2 linked regions of the Homo sapiens genome follow. The protein of the gene in region 1 interacts with the protein of each later gene in a pairwise test. Each region holds a gene or a part of one and is shown on either strand. Other genes may lie near its edges.

The links.
Region 2: the proteins of PTPN12 (region 1) and LMTK2 interact in a two-hybrid assay, tested with the Homo sapiens proteins (one study listed by BioGRID and IntAct).

What each region holds. Positions count from the first base shown.
Region 1 is NC_000007.14:77,539,753-77,547,963, reverse strand, and holds part of PTPN12 (tyrosine-protein phosphatase non-receptor type 12), read right to left. Parts: intron 1-8,211. UniProt on the Homo sapiens protein: Dephosphorylates a range of proteins, and thereby regulates cellular signaling cascades. Dephosphorylates cellular tyrosine kinases, such as ERBB2 and PTK2B/PYK2, and thereby regulates signaling via ERBB2 and PTK2B/PYK2.
Region 2 is NC_000007.14:98,109,214-98,117,424, forward strand, and holds part of LMTK2 (serine/threonine-protein kinase LMTK2 precursor), read left to right. Parts: intron 1-8,211. UniProt on the Homo sapiens protein: Phosphorylates PPP1C, phosphorylase b and CFTR.

The sequences.
Region 1 (8,211 bases):
GCCAATTTCATAATAGCATTTAAGCTGATATTCCTTTGGAAATCCTATTATTTGGGTACATAAGATTTTCTTATTTTATACACACTGACCCTGTTCTTCCCATCTAAAACCCACAGTTCTATCTCTGTTTATCTCCAAGTCTTTGAAAGTGTTGTTGCCTTTTACTCACCTAGTTCACCTGACAAACTCTTCCTTCAAAAACCAGCTCAAATGTAGCATCTTTGTGGAAACTGTCCATGATCTATTCAGACAGATTTAGGCTCTCCTGTCTCTCTGGCTTATATTCCGAATATACTTCCACTGGAGCAGTATGTCATCTCAAATTCCTTTGACTACCTTCTATATACTATGTTAGAAACTTTACATATATTATCTTGTTCTTTCCAGGTAGGTATTAGAGCCCCAACTTCTCTAGATAATCTGCTCAGAATCACAGCAGGGCCAGGATAGAAATTAATGACTGTATAGCTCCTAAACTCCTTATCTTTCCACTAGTCTAAGGGACCCAAACTCCTTGAGAAACTAAGAGCTATGAACTTTCTTCCCCCTAAAATGGGCTTACACACAAAAAATATTATATATAATTTAAAAGGGTTCAAAGATTCCCCTGAAGCCCACCCACTGCCCCCAGGAAAAGTCCCGCTGCTTCTCACAGGTCTGTTCAGTTAGTAAACTTCCTGAACAGAGTACTGCCATGTTTTCAACTGTCAATTCAAAAACACAGTACCTAGGGCATAGTGGGCACTCAGGTATCTCCATAAATACCTTCTGTATGAATGGATAAATGATAGAGACCATGGATGGATGACAGAGACCATGGATGGATGACAGAGACAAATCTTTGCATTCCTTCAGAGCCTATCAGGACAGTCACTCAAATGTTGTTAAAATAGCTTTTTAAATGCCGATTAGATATAAAAGTTATTACAGGAAATGTAGATATTAGCACACTTCCCAAAGCCTCTGAGATTATCATGGTCCACGATATGACTAGGCTTTGTGTCCCCACCAAATCTCATCTTGAATTATAATCCCTATGTAATTATAATCCCCCATGCTATTCTCCTGATAGTGAGTTCTCACAAGATCTGATGGTTTTACAAATGTTTGGTAGTTCCTCCCATGTTCATTCTCCTTCCTGCCACCTTGTGAAGAAGGTGCCTTGCTTCCCCTTCACCTTCCACCACAATCGTAAGTTTCCTGAGGCCTCCCCAGCCATGCTGAACTGTGAGTCAATTAAACCTCTTTCCTTTATAAATTACCCAGTCTCGGGCAGTTCTTCATAGCAGTGTGAAAATGGACTAATACAGTCCACACTCCACTTTCTCCAAAAAAAACTTTTAGGGAGCAACTACTGTTTGCTTCTTATATCTGCCATAGGCCAGCTACAGACCCTACAATACTGTACAAATGCAAACAAGATTTTTGTGTGATTTCAGAAGGAAGGAGATAATTGTCAAGGTTTGACTGCATGAATCTAAAGAAACTTAAATACTACAGGAAATATAAAATGCTGGAAGAGGAGTTCAACTCATATTTGGAAAAGACTAGTGGTTTAGAAATTGCATATCACCTGATTTACCTTATCAAGTTTTCAACTCAAATCTAATGAAAGGCTTTTTTTCTTGTGATATTAAAGATCAAACTTTACAAAGGAGAAAAAGTGCTTTAAGATTAACTGTGCTAAAATATTTATTCTAGAAGGTGAGAATTAATCACATTTTTGCTTCTGAGTTTTTGGTGAACATGGTGAAGTCATTTTAAATTTTTAGCTTTCTCATCTTCCAAGTACTGGTTTATAAAATAAAAGGGGAGACCATCCTGGCCAACATGGTGAAACCCCATCTCTACTAAAAATAAAAAAAGTAGCTGTGTGTGGTCACGGGCGCCCGTAATCCCAGCTACTCAGGAGACCGAGGCAGCAGAATTGCTTGAACCCAGGAGGCGGAGGTTGCAGTGAGCTGAGATGGTGCCACTGCACTCCAGCCTGGCAACAAAGCAAGACTTTGTCTCAAAAAAATAAAATAAAATAAAATAAAAGGGAAGCTTTCTGAGGGAAAAAGTATGTTCAACAGTACAACCACAGATAAGCAAGATTTCATTCATTTAGTAGGTATGCTCAAGGACCAGGAATAGCTTCCTTCAAAAAGAAGAGAGGATACATACCAGAGTATAGAAGTTTAACACTGGAAAGGTACTGTGACATTATGTTAAGAAGGTTCTGGAATGCCAGGCTAAGAAGTACAGACTTTATCCTATAGGCCTGTGATTCTCAACTAGGACCAAAGTTACAAAATTGGATGAAAACTTCCAGGTGAAGTATTTTTTTTTAATTATTAAAAAAAACTATATATATATATTTAAAATTGGAGGGAGCTGAGAAGGGAAAAATCAGGGAATCAAATCTCTCTGGAAAGAGAGACAGACATAATTACAGTTTGAAAAAGGAGCAGCACTTGGATCATATGTTTTGAATTGACTTTCAAAATACACATTTAAAATTTCCAATAATTGTAATGGTCATCAAAGGGAGCAATGAGTTTTTTTAACTTATATTTTTAATAATAAAAATTAAACCATGCTTCCAGTGCAGCCCACATCTCCTGATTGTACAACCAGTATGGTTTCCATTAGCCTACAGATGCTGCCACTTGAAAGTGAGTATGATGTGTTGAATGGACTGGATGAGGAAAGAAACTAGAGGCAAGTAGAGAACAACAGATATCACTTGTAATCACTCTCTAAATACCCACAAATTCACTATTTTTGAAGAGATACCGATGACATGATATCTTGATTTTATTAAGTCCAAAGCCAAAAGTTTAAAAGACATTTTATTAATACTCTAAGACAATGTCAACAAAGTATGATCCATTGGGTGTGGGATGCACAAATACAGAAGTTACCTTAAGAAACTGCAGCTAATAAAATCATATTTATTTAAAATATTTGAATTCAATGTAGCTCTTATCTTGTATTTTCTTTTTCAGTGGATACTGAAAATACAACGAGTTATGTGAGCACATCTGTGTAGGAGGGGAAGAAGCAGTTCTCATGATCGTCTAGAAGACAAACCCTTGGACCACTGAAGAATTCACCTGAAGAATAAATCTGTCTTACAGCATTAAGTTTGTCTACAATGTCTGCACATGCAATGGACATTAGTGCCTATTAAATGCCAAGCACTATATTAAGCAATGGGGATACAGGGATAATTAAGTCCCAGTCTCTAGCCTGGGAGGCGTTCAGTCTGGGGAAGACAGAAATGTAAATATTTATGAATCTAATGAACTCAGTGCTACAGAAACACAGAAGTATTTAACATATGAACAAAAAACCTACAGCCACCTAAATGTTAATGTCTTACTTTCAGTTTCATCCTTTAAAAATCCTTTTTCCAAGTTAAATATCAAATATTGATGGAAAAAAGTTAATATATTTTGAAAGTAAATAAAGTAAAACATTCTTGAGAATGCTTAAAGTAAATTTTTAGTTTACTGTCTCAGTGAACCATGTCTGGAGAGTTACTTAAAAGTTCACTTCCACTTCTGAAGTTAGTTGATGTAAATATGTTTAGGTGAATACTCATCAAAGGATGGATAAGAAAACCATAACTAAACCAGTGGCACTGGGTAAGCACTAAGATTAGCTCAAATGCAAGGACTGGAAAATATTTCCTATCACTCTAGCTTTGAAAGACAAATTAAGACACACAAAATCTTACAAGCTAACCACAAGAAGATACCACTTCACACCCAGTAGGATGCCTATAATCAAAAAGACAGCAACAAGTATCGGTGAAGATGTAGAGGAACTGGAACCCTCATATATTCCTGATTGGAATGTAATATGTGCAGCAGCTTTGGATAACAGTCTGGCAGTTCCGCAAAATGTTAAACATAGTGTTACCACGTGACTGAGCAATTCCACACTTAGATATATACCCAAGAGACCTGAAAATGTGTCCACACAGAAACTTGTACACAAATGTTCATAGCTGCATTATTCACATTAGCCAAAAAGTGGAAACAATTCAAATACCCATCAACACGATGAATGGATAAACAAAATGTGGTATCTATACAATAGAATATTATTCAGCCATAAAAAGGCCAAAAGTACTACGGATCAATACTATAACATGGATGAAACTTGAAATCATCATGTTAGGTGGAGTCAGTCACAAAACACCACATATTGTATGATTCCATTTATATAAAATGTCCAGAATACTTAAATCTATGGAAACAGAAGGTAGATTTGTGGTTGCCTGGGGCTTATGGGAAGGCGGGGAGTGACTGCTAATGGGTACAGAAAGTGAAGAAAATGTCCTAAAATTGATTATGGTTATTGTTGCATAACTTCATCAATGTAATAAAAAACTAGTGAATCATAGACTTTAAATGAATAAATCTTATGGTAGGTACTTATATCTCAATAAAGCTATTATTAGTTTTTTTAAACCTATAAGCTACAACACTGAATAAACAAATGATTAAAATTTTTATATTTATCAAGACTGCAACATAAGATCTTCCCAGGCTAAAGAGGATATACACATAGACAAGAAATAATAAGAAAAATATTCTCTAGTTCTCTCTTTAAAAAAAAAAAAAAAAGGCAGTGGAAGGGGCACACTCTCCTTCAACCAATCTTCCTCTAGCTCCTACCATCTACTTTCAAAATGTTAAAAAAAATGGAAAGACACTAAACCCACCCTTCACCCTATAATCTAGCTTCTTCCCATACCCCAACCCAAACTGTTTTTTCTAGTCACCAAAGCACTCCTATGTGCCAAATGGAATAGGTACTTTCTCAACCTCACCTTACCGGTCCTCCCAGCATTATTTGACTCTGGTAATAACTCCTTTCTTGAAACTCTCCCTGGCTTTTCTGACATCTCTGGTTCTCCTCCCTCCTCCTTGACCACACCTTCTCAGGAACAATCACTAGTATATCCTTCTTTTGGCTGTTATTTTAAGACTGATGTTCTTCAACCTAAAGCTGGTCACTCTATAAGTTTGTTGGAATAAGCTCATTCACTCCCATGCTGTCGACTATCTCCTACATGCTTATATTATGATGCCTACATCTTTAACTCCGTCCTGTCAGAAATCTTGAGCTCTACATTTCTACTGGATGTCTCAGAGGCACCGCAGTTTTAACATGTTGAAAATTAAATTTATCCTCTTCTCCCCCTGAAACTTCCTCCTACAATGTTGTTTGGTCTCCTCTACTTGTTTCTCCTCCCTCACTCCTTACTCTACCAAATGGTATTCTCTAGCTTGGGTGACAGATACCAAGCTAGATATTTTGCGAGTCATAACACTATACTCTTTTCTTCTTTACTACCTACATCTAATGAATCATTGAGACTCCTTTCTTAATTCTTATCAGATGTGTTGTATACACTCTATTTCCCCATCTCAGTTCACTTCAGGCCCTCACATCTCACTTCTTATATTTCAACAGCTTCCAAAATGCCACCCTTCATACTGCTATCAGATTCAACTTTGTAAAACACAAATGACTGTTTACCTTTCTTAAAAGACTCAGTAGTGCTCCAGAAACCCAGACTAATGATTCTCACCTTTTCTACCAGAACCTATCTAAGTAAGTGAAGGTTCAGAGTACAACTCAAGGAGCAGGCTGGAGAAGGTGAGATGGGGGAATGACGCTGGAGTGGACCAGCATGTCTATTTTCTTAACACCTCCCTACTTTCTCCATGTCTCTAGGAGTTACAATGCAGACTGTCCAGAATTGCTATTATCGGTCTGTAGAATAAAATCTAAGTATAGCATAGATGTAAGATCCTTCACAAAAAGACCTCTACCTAACTTTCCCAGCATTACCTTTATCATTTACCATGTATTAGCTCACTGGTTCTCAAAGTATGGTCCAGGACCACCTCCCCAACCCCCAGCCATCAGAGGGAGTCTGTGTGGAGTTAAAACCTAGGTCTGTCAAACATGAATGTGCACCACCCTACTTTATACATTTATCTCTCATTTTGTAAATATTAAAAGTAGAGATAATTGAGATCAAATTCTGGATCAGCCACAAATTAGCTATTTGCTAATTTATTAGCAAAATTAGCATGTTTTCAACATGCAAATAACCATCTAGGCAACATAGTTCTGCACAGTCTGGGTACCTTAGCTGTCTCCTCTTTAACAGTATGGGGCACAACCAAGGCCAGGAATAGACACTCATAGAATAGTAATGACAGGTGGAAAATTTCTATCCTCAATAGTAATCAAGAAATTCAAGTTAAAACAAGATATCAGTTTTCAACCATCAAATAAAGATCAAGAAAATTATAATATGAACACTCATACATTATGACAGTTGTATAAACTGACAAAACTTTTTCAAGTTTATGAACATGTATTAAATGTTTATATACGTCTACCTAGTACTCCTGGGAAGCTATCTTATGCAACAGTGAAAAATGTCAGTTTCAGCAAAAATGTTAATCACAGAATTACTATATGTAACAGCAGAAAGTAGAATGACCTAAATACTCAAACATAAAGAAACAAAATTAAGATATAAGATAGTTACCAAGTAGTAGGCCGGCTACGGTGGCTCACACCTGTAACCCCAGCACTTTGAGGCTGAGGCAGGTGGATTGCTTGAGCCCAGGAGTTTGAGACCAGCCTGGGCAACATGGGGAAACCCTGTCTCTACAAAAAATACAAAAATCAGCAGGGCTTGGTGGGGTGGGCCCATAGCCCCAGCTACTCTGGAGGCTGAAGTGGGAGGATCACCTGAGCCCAGGGAGACCGACGCTGCCGTGAGCCAGGATCGCAACCATGCACTCCAGCCTGGGTGACAGAGTGAGACCCTGTCTCAAAAACAGAACAAAACAACAAAACAAAACAAAACCAAAAAATATTAACAGAGGTAGCCTTTAAATGACAGGACTGTAGGACAGCTGGATAGAGCGAAAAGAGCATCATCACCAGTCAGGCAAGTGGAGTGTTCATTTGAACTGTGGTCTAAGTGTAAGGCATTATTATTATTCTATTAATTTCCAAATTTGGAATAAACATTATTTTATGATGGAACAGTTATATCAGCTACATTATCTCTAAGGCTCAGTCATAAAATGTTAAGAATTTAAAATGCATTTTTAATCGACATCAGAATTTAAAAATAATAGAATCTATAAGCTAATCTTTTTTTTCTCTTTCCATGCCAGGAGAACATAGTTCCTCTCCAGCCTTCCAGTCAGGGGAAAAAGCAGCACCAACTACCGGCTGTCTTAATTACAGCTATTGCTTATCAAGTCAGGAAATTAAAAAAAAAAAAAGCCCTATAAAAGAATAGCCTTAGTCATCAAATCTCTAATGTAGAATCACCTAGCTATACCTAGGTATCATGGAAGAAAAAGGAAACTCATTTACTCTTGGAGAAATGAACTCTCGGTGGCTCATGCCTGTAATCCTAGCACTTTGGGAGGCTGAGGCGGGCAGATCACAAAGTCAGTCAGATGAAAGTTCAAGACCAGTCTGGCCAATATGGTGAAATCCCATCTCTACTAAAAATACAAAAATTAGCCAGGCGTGGTGGCATGCGCCTGTAATCTCAGCTACTCAGGAGGCTGAGGCAGGAGAATCGCTTGAACCTGGGAGGTGGAGGATGCAGTGAGCCGAGATTGAGCCACTGCACTCCAACCTGGGCGACACAGCGAGGTGTTACATCTCAAAAAAAAAAGAAAGAAAGAAAGAAAGAAAGAAATGAACTCTCCAATAGGAATCCCTGACTCATCCCCAAAGCATGAACCCTAAGGCCACTTCTCCAGTACAGGAGTTCAGAGGCTGGGCAACCTGTCCTGATGGCCCGCATCACCAAACAATGCTCCTTCCTGACGGTATATGCCTAGGGATAACAAGGTGACTAGCATGCAAACAAGAAATGACCAGGGACCACACCATCTCTTCTTCCATAACCAAAGTAAGACGGTAAAAAACTAGTTTTAGGCCGGGCATGGTGGCTCACGCCTGTAATCCCAGCACTTTGGGAGGCCAAAGCAGATGGATCACTTGAGATGAGGAGTTCGAGAGCAGCCTGCAAATATGGCGAAACCCCATCTCTACTAAAAATACAAAATTAGCAGGGCGTGGTAGCTTGCGCCTGTAGTCCCGGCTACTTCGGACAAAAATTAGCCGGGCGTGGTGGCACGTGCCTATAATCTCAGCTACTCA
Region 2 (8,211 bases), about 21 Mb from region 1:
ATGAATTATAAAATGAATTTTGTTGGGGTGTTGTAGAACAAAGCAATCAGAAAAGTTAATCTGTAAATAGAGATATCAAATCTTGACATACATATAGCATAAGGAAATATTTGGTAATTTGTAGCAACTTTTGCTACAAATTTTCCTTTCATATTCTGATCTTTGTAGGATAGGTGTATATGTTTTGACGTGTTGCATATGAATAATGGGTACCTAGGGTTAAAGTCTGTGGAAAAGACGCACAGTCAGGCCGGGAGCAGTGGATCACACCTGTAATCCCAGCACTTTGGGAGGCCCAGGTGGGTGGATTGCTTGAGGTCAGGAGTTCGAGACCAGCCTGACCAACATGGTGAAATTCCCTCTCTACTAAATATACAAAAATTAGCCGTGCGTGGTGGTGGGAGCCTGTAATCCCAACTATTTGGGAGGCTGAGGCAGGAAAATTGCTTGCACCCAGGGAGCGGAGCTTACAGTGAGCCGAGATTGTGCCACTGCATCATAGCCTGGGCAACAGAGTGAGACTCCGTCTCAAAAAAAAAAAAAAAAAAAAGAAAGGAAGATGCACAATCAGACATAGATATTCAGGGGCTTGTCTCTCCATCCAAAAGAGTTTATTGATCCTCGTTAGCTGAGGTGGGTTCTTGACCAAGATATATTAGACCAAGTTTAAAAAAAAACCTTTAAGCTAATCCTGACTAGTGAGCTCGCTGGTTAAAAAAGAGGAATCCCGCTTGACCATGTATGGTAGATAAAAGAGCAGTTACACGCCAAAAACCTAACTAAAGCTTCTGGTAATCTAGGAGCCTGCACTCCTTGTGAAGATAGAGCTAGACACTTTCAAATAAGGATAGACCCATTTCATAGGGTCTTTCGCCTCCTTGTTCTTCTTTCTGCTTGAAGCCTGATCAGTCTATCCAGTTTAATGGTGCCTTAGAGAAAGCATGCAGTTAACTGAAATTCAGCTTTTAAACTGAAGATCATTTATCTATGGTGTCTTCATCATCTAGATTCATTGCTAGACTCAGAAGCTGAAAAAGATATTTTCTTATTCAGTCATAATAAAGCTATGTAAATATATAGATTGCACTTGCCCATCAGGCAAGAAGGCATTTCTTGGTTGAACTTTATTTTGGGCCTCTTCTTTGAGCTGGGATGCCGTTTTGCCCCCTACGCCCGCCCCGTCTAGGAGCCTCTTTTCCTGAGAATCTGTGTTTCTGTAAGGGCCCTTGTTGTTATGTAGACTAAGACTTGTTGGTCCTCTCTAGGAAGCTTTTATGTAAAGGGAGAAAGTTCACTGTTTTCACACCCAGTTAAATTGCCAAACTAAGATTACAGTTCAGTTCTTTTCCCCAGATCATAGTTATCAGATCATTCTTCTCTTAGAAAACATGGATGCGCCTTTTCTAAGATTCTCAGGATTCACATCATAAACGGGGACTAGAAATAAAGAAAGATCTTGTATATGTGAACGAATTTCTCTAAGCTCACACTTTCTTATTAATATTAGGATAGTGGTGAGACAAGGAAACCCAGTTCTATTGTTCTGCAGCATATTAGGTCACAGAGTACAGAGGAAGCTTTTAGCAGCTCCAGATAAAGGACCTCACGGAAGCCCGTGAAGCCAGTGGGACTCAGCTACTGATTAAACAGCAGCTTGTGAAACCGAGCCTCTCGTTTTAGATTAAACAAACAGACTTGTATTTTGAAAAAGATTTCTAAAGTAAAGGAAATGCTTTCTAAAGTATGAATTACTGTGTTTAACAGCCTCTGGGAAAATTATTTTCAACAGGCTTTCTATGCAAATTATTTTAGGATTTATAGCTATAAATCTTGAAATTTGATTTTGGTTGGGATTGCTGCAATTACTTTTACTTGGTGATATTTTGGGGTTAACTAAATATGCTCATTTGAACAGTAATAGGAAGTCCGTCTGCAGTTTTGTAGCTGATTAGCACTGAAGTTATCAAATCCTTACAGTTTTGCTGATAATCAGTGTGCTGAGTGTTCCTGCAAATTCTCTTAAAAATTTAGAGTCCTTGGGCCCTCTCTGGCCCCTGTGTATTGTGTCACTTAGATAACAGCTGTAGATATAATTTTAAAAAGACACTGTCATATAAATAAGGGACGTCCAGGGTTCTGAAACAGTAAACAAATGAGTCCTCAAAAAAGTTCTTGTAAATGGACATATAGAAATAATCCAACTTTTTCGTTTAGTTGAGAGTAAAATTCATGAACCAATCCTAGCTGGAACAGAGTGTTGTAGGAAGAGCTTGGGCTTTGTAGTGAGATCTGGGTGTGAAGCCTTGGCTGCCGCTGGAATAGCTTAAGGACCCTGGGTCAGTTACTCGACCTCTGGGCTTAGAACTCCATCATTAAAAAGGGTGGCAATGACAATATTTACCCAAAGGGTTGTGGGGGGCACAGTGGTGTACCCTCTCACACTAGATTGCTTCATTGTTTCAGATTTCTTTGTAAATTTGGTTATCATCAAATTGACTAATGGCAGGTGGTATGGCATCAAAGCAGGAGCTCAAAGTGGTAGCTGCGTAACATGGCATGTCTAGAATTTACTGGATTTAAAAAATCTTTGTTGCTCAAAATAACTTTTTTATGGTGGATGGAGATGCTTTAGAGAGAAATCTGGTTTATTTAAGTCTAAGCTGGTATTGTTACTACTTGAAATTCGTAGTGTTGGAGAACTATGCTGGAAATTTTTAGGATCATCTGGGTTAGTCTGCTTTTATGTAATAAACCTGTTTTTAAAGTGGAAGATGACTAAAGCTCTTGCATGTGAACAGATGCTGATTTTAATTTATTTAAAGGAATCATGAGCACTTGAAAGTTTTTCTTGATCTTAAACACAATTGTGTATTGTCATGAGGCATCCCTGATTAACCCAGGTTGTAGTAGAACAAGCCCAGAGCTGATGCTTTCTCTTAGAAACCAGAGAGATGAATGTGACTGACGTTTTTCTTTCTCCCTCTCATTTTTCTTTTTTTTAAGAGACAGGATCTTGCTCTGCTGCCCAGGCTAGAGTGCAGTGGTGCGATCATAGCTCACTGCAACCTCCAACTCCTGGCCTCAAGAGATCCTCCCATTTCAGCCTCCCAAAGTGCTGGGGTTATAGGCATGAGTCACTGCACCAGGCAAGACTTGGTTTATCTGTAAAACGGAGAGAATAGTTACAGTCTTGTGAAGGTCCAAACCTGTGTTGTCTAGTACAATAGCCACTAGCTCCCTGTGGATGCTTAAATGTAAACGTTTTAGAACGAAAGCTTCAGTTCTTCAGTGGCACTGGCCACAAGTTAAGGGCTTGATAACTGCAGGTGGCTGGTGGCTACGGCATTGGACAGCACAGAAGAGAACTTCCCATTATGGAAAAAGGTTCTGTGGGACAGGGCTGGTGTGAGGCAGGTACAGTGCCCAGTCCTTGGTTAGGACATGTAAGGCCAGCTGTGATTATAATTATGATCATGATCCTGATTCTTCGTGAACTCCCAAATCTAGGCCCATTACAAGGGTGAGGGAAGTGAGAAGAGGGCTTTGAAAAAAGAAAGAAGAAAAGACAAAATAATTGTGGAGTTTTTGCTGGTGAAGAGATGAGAACTGAGGTAGCACAACCTCAGCTCCCCACTGCAGAACAGAAGAAAGAGACTTCAGGGAAAAACAGTCTTGCTCTGTCACTCAGGCTGGAGTGCAATGGCACAATCACAGCTCACTGTAGCCTCAAACTCCCAGGCTCAAGCAATCCTCCTGCCTCAGCCTCCTGAGTAGGTGTGTGTCACCTACAGACACTTACCTGTAGGTGTGTGACTACAGGTGTGTGCCACCATGCCCACTTTATTTTTTTGTAGAGATGGTGATATGGTTTGGCTGTTTCCTCACCCAATTCTTATCTTGAATTGTAGTTCCCGTAATCCCCATATGTCGTGTGAGGAACCCCATGGGAGATAGTTGAATCATGGGGGTGGTTACCCCCATGCTATTCTTGTGATAGTGAATGAGTTCTCACAAGATCTGATGGTTTTGTAAGGACTTTTCCCCCTTTGCTTGGCACTTCTCTCTCCTGCTGCCATGTGACGAAGGACATGTTTGCTTCCCCTTCCACCGTGTTTATAAGTTTCCTGAGGCCTCCCCAGCCATGTGGAACTGTGAGTCAATTAAACCTCTTTCCTTGATAAATTACCCAGTCTTGAGCGATTCTTTATAGCACTGTAAGAATGGACTAATACAGCTGGCGTCTCACTGTGTTGCCCAGGCTGGTCTCAAATTCCTGGCCTCAAGTGATCCTCCTGCCTCAGTCTCCAAAAGTGGTAGGATTATAGGTGTGAGCCACCGCACCTGGCCCTTTCTCATTTAAAATCATGTGCTTTTATAGTCGACTAGCAGTGCTTTATTACTGTTTTAAAACTTTGTATTTACTAAAATGAGGGAAGGAATATTCTCGGAGGAGATGCTGGACAACCATCTCTGATCTAGAAGACTGCTCCCTCTAGGGATTTTAGATTCCATTATCAGCTTTTCTTTGAATCTTCTTATGAAGATACTGTTGCAGAAAACTGGGGAAGTTATGGTAAAATTAGCATGTCTGCAGAGCAAAATATTGGATTGATGTCTTTTAAAATTGTAGCAAGTGGCTAATTCGGAGCCCTGCCTTGGCATTACAATTGTTTGTCACAAAGAGCAGGCATATCAGAAAAGTAACCTCATTATTAAATTCTTTTTTTTTTTTTTGCAAAAGTTAGCTCAGTGCAGTGATTCCAAATGTCATTTATTGTATTGTGATTCAGGTGGGAAAAGTGAGCACTATTTATGCCAGATGTCTCAGGTACCCGCAGCCACAGCATTGATCAGTATCTTTCATTTTCTCTGCCTTTTTTTCCTTCCCCAACCACAAAAGAGTGACTCTGTATTCCTCTGCCCACCTGGGCCTTTGGTAGGAGGGGGTGGTGGTGGTAAACCTTCTGTTTAATTTTTGACAATTTGGTAGGTAGGTTTTGCATTTTATTATATGTGTTTTTTTAAAGTTTTTTTTTTTTTTTTTTGAGACAGGGTCTTGTTCTGTCACTCAGGCTGGAATGCAGTGGTGCAGTCATATTCACTGCAGTCTCTACTTCTTGGGCTAAAACGATCCTCCCACCTCAGCCTCCTGAATAGCTGGGACTACAGGTGGATACCACCATGCCTGACTGATGTAAAACATATTTTTTCTATAGAGATGGGATCTCACTATATTGCCCAGGCTGGTCTCAAACTCCTGGACTCAAGTGATCCTCCCACCTCAGCCTCCCAAAGTGCTGGGATTACAGGCATGAGCCACTGCACCTGGGTAGTTTTAATATTTTAAAAGGCTTGAGTTACCATCAGGTCAAATTAGGTGTGCAGGACCTTGTGCTATGGCTAAAGTAGCCCCTGTCTCCCTGCATCTGGTGAAGGGAGACGGTCGCATCGGGGTGTCTGCTGCAGCGCATCTGTTGTTGTTCCTGCCTCCACCCTCCACAGCACTTTTTTCAGAGCTAACTTGATCTGCCTATCGCTTGCAAAATATTCCATGCAAATTCCCATCTTCTGGCTCTCCATATATTCTCCCTGTTTGCAATTGCCTCTTTTCCTGCTTCTGTAAGTGCTGCCATCTTTTTATTTTTTTTAAAACCTCTTTGCGGACCCACCTTCCCTACTGAGTTATTGATCCTGGCCCAGCCCTTAGAGATTCCTTCCCTTGGTGAACTTGAGAGTGTATACCTGTGGAGCAAGATGTTTCATGGGGTGCCAGACGAAAACATTGGAACTGATGTTTATTCTCATTTCATCCTCTTAAAAGGTCAACTTATGTGATGTTTTAAGGTATAGAATGTGTGGTACACTAACACATTTTTTGATTTATAAATGACATGGGACGGAAAGAACATAAAATGTACTGCCTGGGTACAGTGGCTCATGCCTGTAATCCCAGCACGGTGGGAGGTCGAGGTGGGTGGATCACGTGAGGTCAGGAGTTCAAGACCAGCCTGGACAACACGGAGAAACCCCGTCTATACTAAAAAACACAAAAATTAGCTGGGTATGGTGGCACACTCCTAAAGTCTCAGCTACTCAGGAGGCTGAGGCAGGAGAGTCGCTTGAACCCAGGAGGCAGAGGTTGCAGTGAGCCGAGATCATGCCATTGCACACCAGCCTGGGCGACAGAGCGAGACTCAAAGAAAGAGAAAAAGAAAGAAGAAAGAAAGAGAAGAAAAAAAGAAAAGAAGGAAGGGAGGGCGGGAGAGAGGAGAGAGAAATTACTGCTGGCTGAAATCAAGAAAGGTTTGGTTTTGGGCCGGGTGCTGTGGCTCACACCTGTAATCTCAGCACTTTGGGAGGCCGAGGCGGGCGGGTCACGAGGTCAAGAGATTGAGACCATCCTGGCCAACATGGTGAAACCCCGTCTCTACTAAAAAGTCAGCTGAGTGTGGTGGCGGGCACTTATAGTCCCAGCTACTCAGGAGGCTGAGGTTGAACCCGGGAGGCGGAGGTTGCAGTGAGCTGAGATCGCACCACTGTGCCCAGGCCTAGTGACAGAGCAAGACTCCATCTCAAAAAAAGCAAAAAAAGAAAGGTTTGGTTTCATCATACCAGTCTACTACTTGCACTTAATAAATACCAAATACCACTTTATATCTTCATATCATTGGTTTTTTGTTTGTTTGTTTAAGAGACAAAGTCTTGCTCTGTTGCCCAGGCTGGAGTGCAGTGAACTGTCATGGTTTACTGCATCCCTGAACTCCTAGGCTCAAGCAGTCCTCCCATGTCAGCTCCTGAGTAGCTGGGACTATAGGCGCATGTAACCATGCTTGGCCAATTTTTACTTTTTGTAGAGATGGTCTACAAAAGTAAAGTTGCCATGTTGCCCAGGCTGGTCTCAAACTCCTGGCCTCAAGCAGTCCTCTGGCTTCGGCCTCCCACGGTGTTGGGATTATAGGTGTGAGCCACAGTGTCCGGCCTACATCATTGTTTAAGTCCTGTCTCTTTACCTAGTTTGCAAGGACCGTGTCTTATATCCTTGGGATAGCACATTTTTGGGATTGGTGTTTGGATGGTATGTCACAGGTTGTAGATGCTCTGTCAGCATTTGTAACTGAGGATGATGAAGATGATACTAGAGAACTAAGTTCTCCAAACCAGTACCTCAGTGTGTGTCTGTGTGTGTGTGTGTGCATGTGCGTGTGTTTGTGCGTGTGTGTGTGTGTTTGTGTCCGCGTGTGTGTGTGTGAAGGAGAGGGTATGAGCTGAAGCCTCTCATTCTCTTGCGGACTTGACTTCCCATGCAGCCACAGACCTTCACCTGGGATGAGGCCATTTATAGTTTTTTTTTTATTAAAACCTTTTTCTTTCACAACAATTTTAGATTTACAGAAACATTGCAAAGATAGTACAGAGTGTTCCTGTGTATCTTTTACCCAGTCCCTGTTGTTAACATCCTATATTAATGTAGTACATTTGTCACAACTAAGGAACAAGTATTAATATATTGCTATTAAATAAGTCCACAGCTTGTTCAGTTTCTTTAATATTTCTCTAGTGTCTTTTTTTCTCTTCCAGGAAACCACATTACATTTAGTAGTTATGCCCCTTGGGCTCCCCCAGTCCATTCCTTGTTTAGAGTGACCTGGACAGCTTTGAGGAGTACTGACTGGTCAGATATTTTGTAGAATGTCCCTCAACTGGGATTTGTCTGATGTTTTTCTCACGATTAGACTGGGGGTGTGGGTTTCTGGGAGGAAGACCACAGAGTTAAAGTGCCATTCTCATCACATCACATCAAGGGTGTGTGCACACAACATCACACAGCATGACTTGTCACTTGATCACCTGGCTGAGTAGTGTTTGTCAGCTTTCACCCTGTAAAGTTACTCTGTCCTCCCCTCCCCATGGTGTACGAGTGCAGGGTCAACACTTAATGAGTGGCAAGCTGTGCTCCACCTCTTTGCAAGGAAGTGTCTGTAGACATTCTTTGGAGTTCTGTTGAAGAGACTCGCGTATTCTCTTCTTTTCTTTTTTTCTTCCTCTTCCCCTTCCCTTTCCTTGACAGGTCTTGCTCTGTAGTCCAAACTGGAGTGCAGTAGCACAGTCATGACTCACTGCAGCCTTGAACTCCCGGGCCCATGCGATCCTCTGTTTATTTCTTTATTCAAGCATTTACTTATGTCAGTGTGGATGCATGGATATTTATTT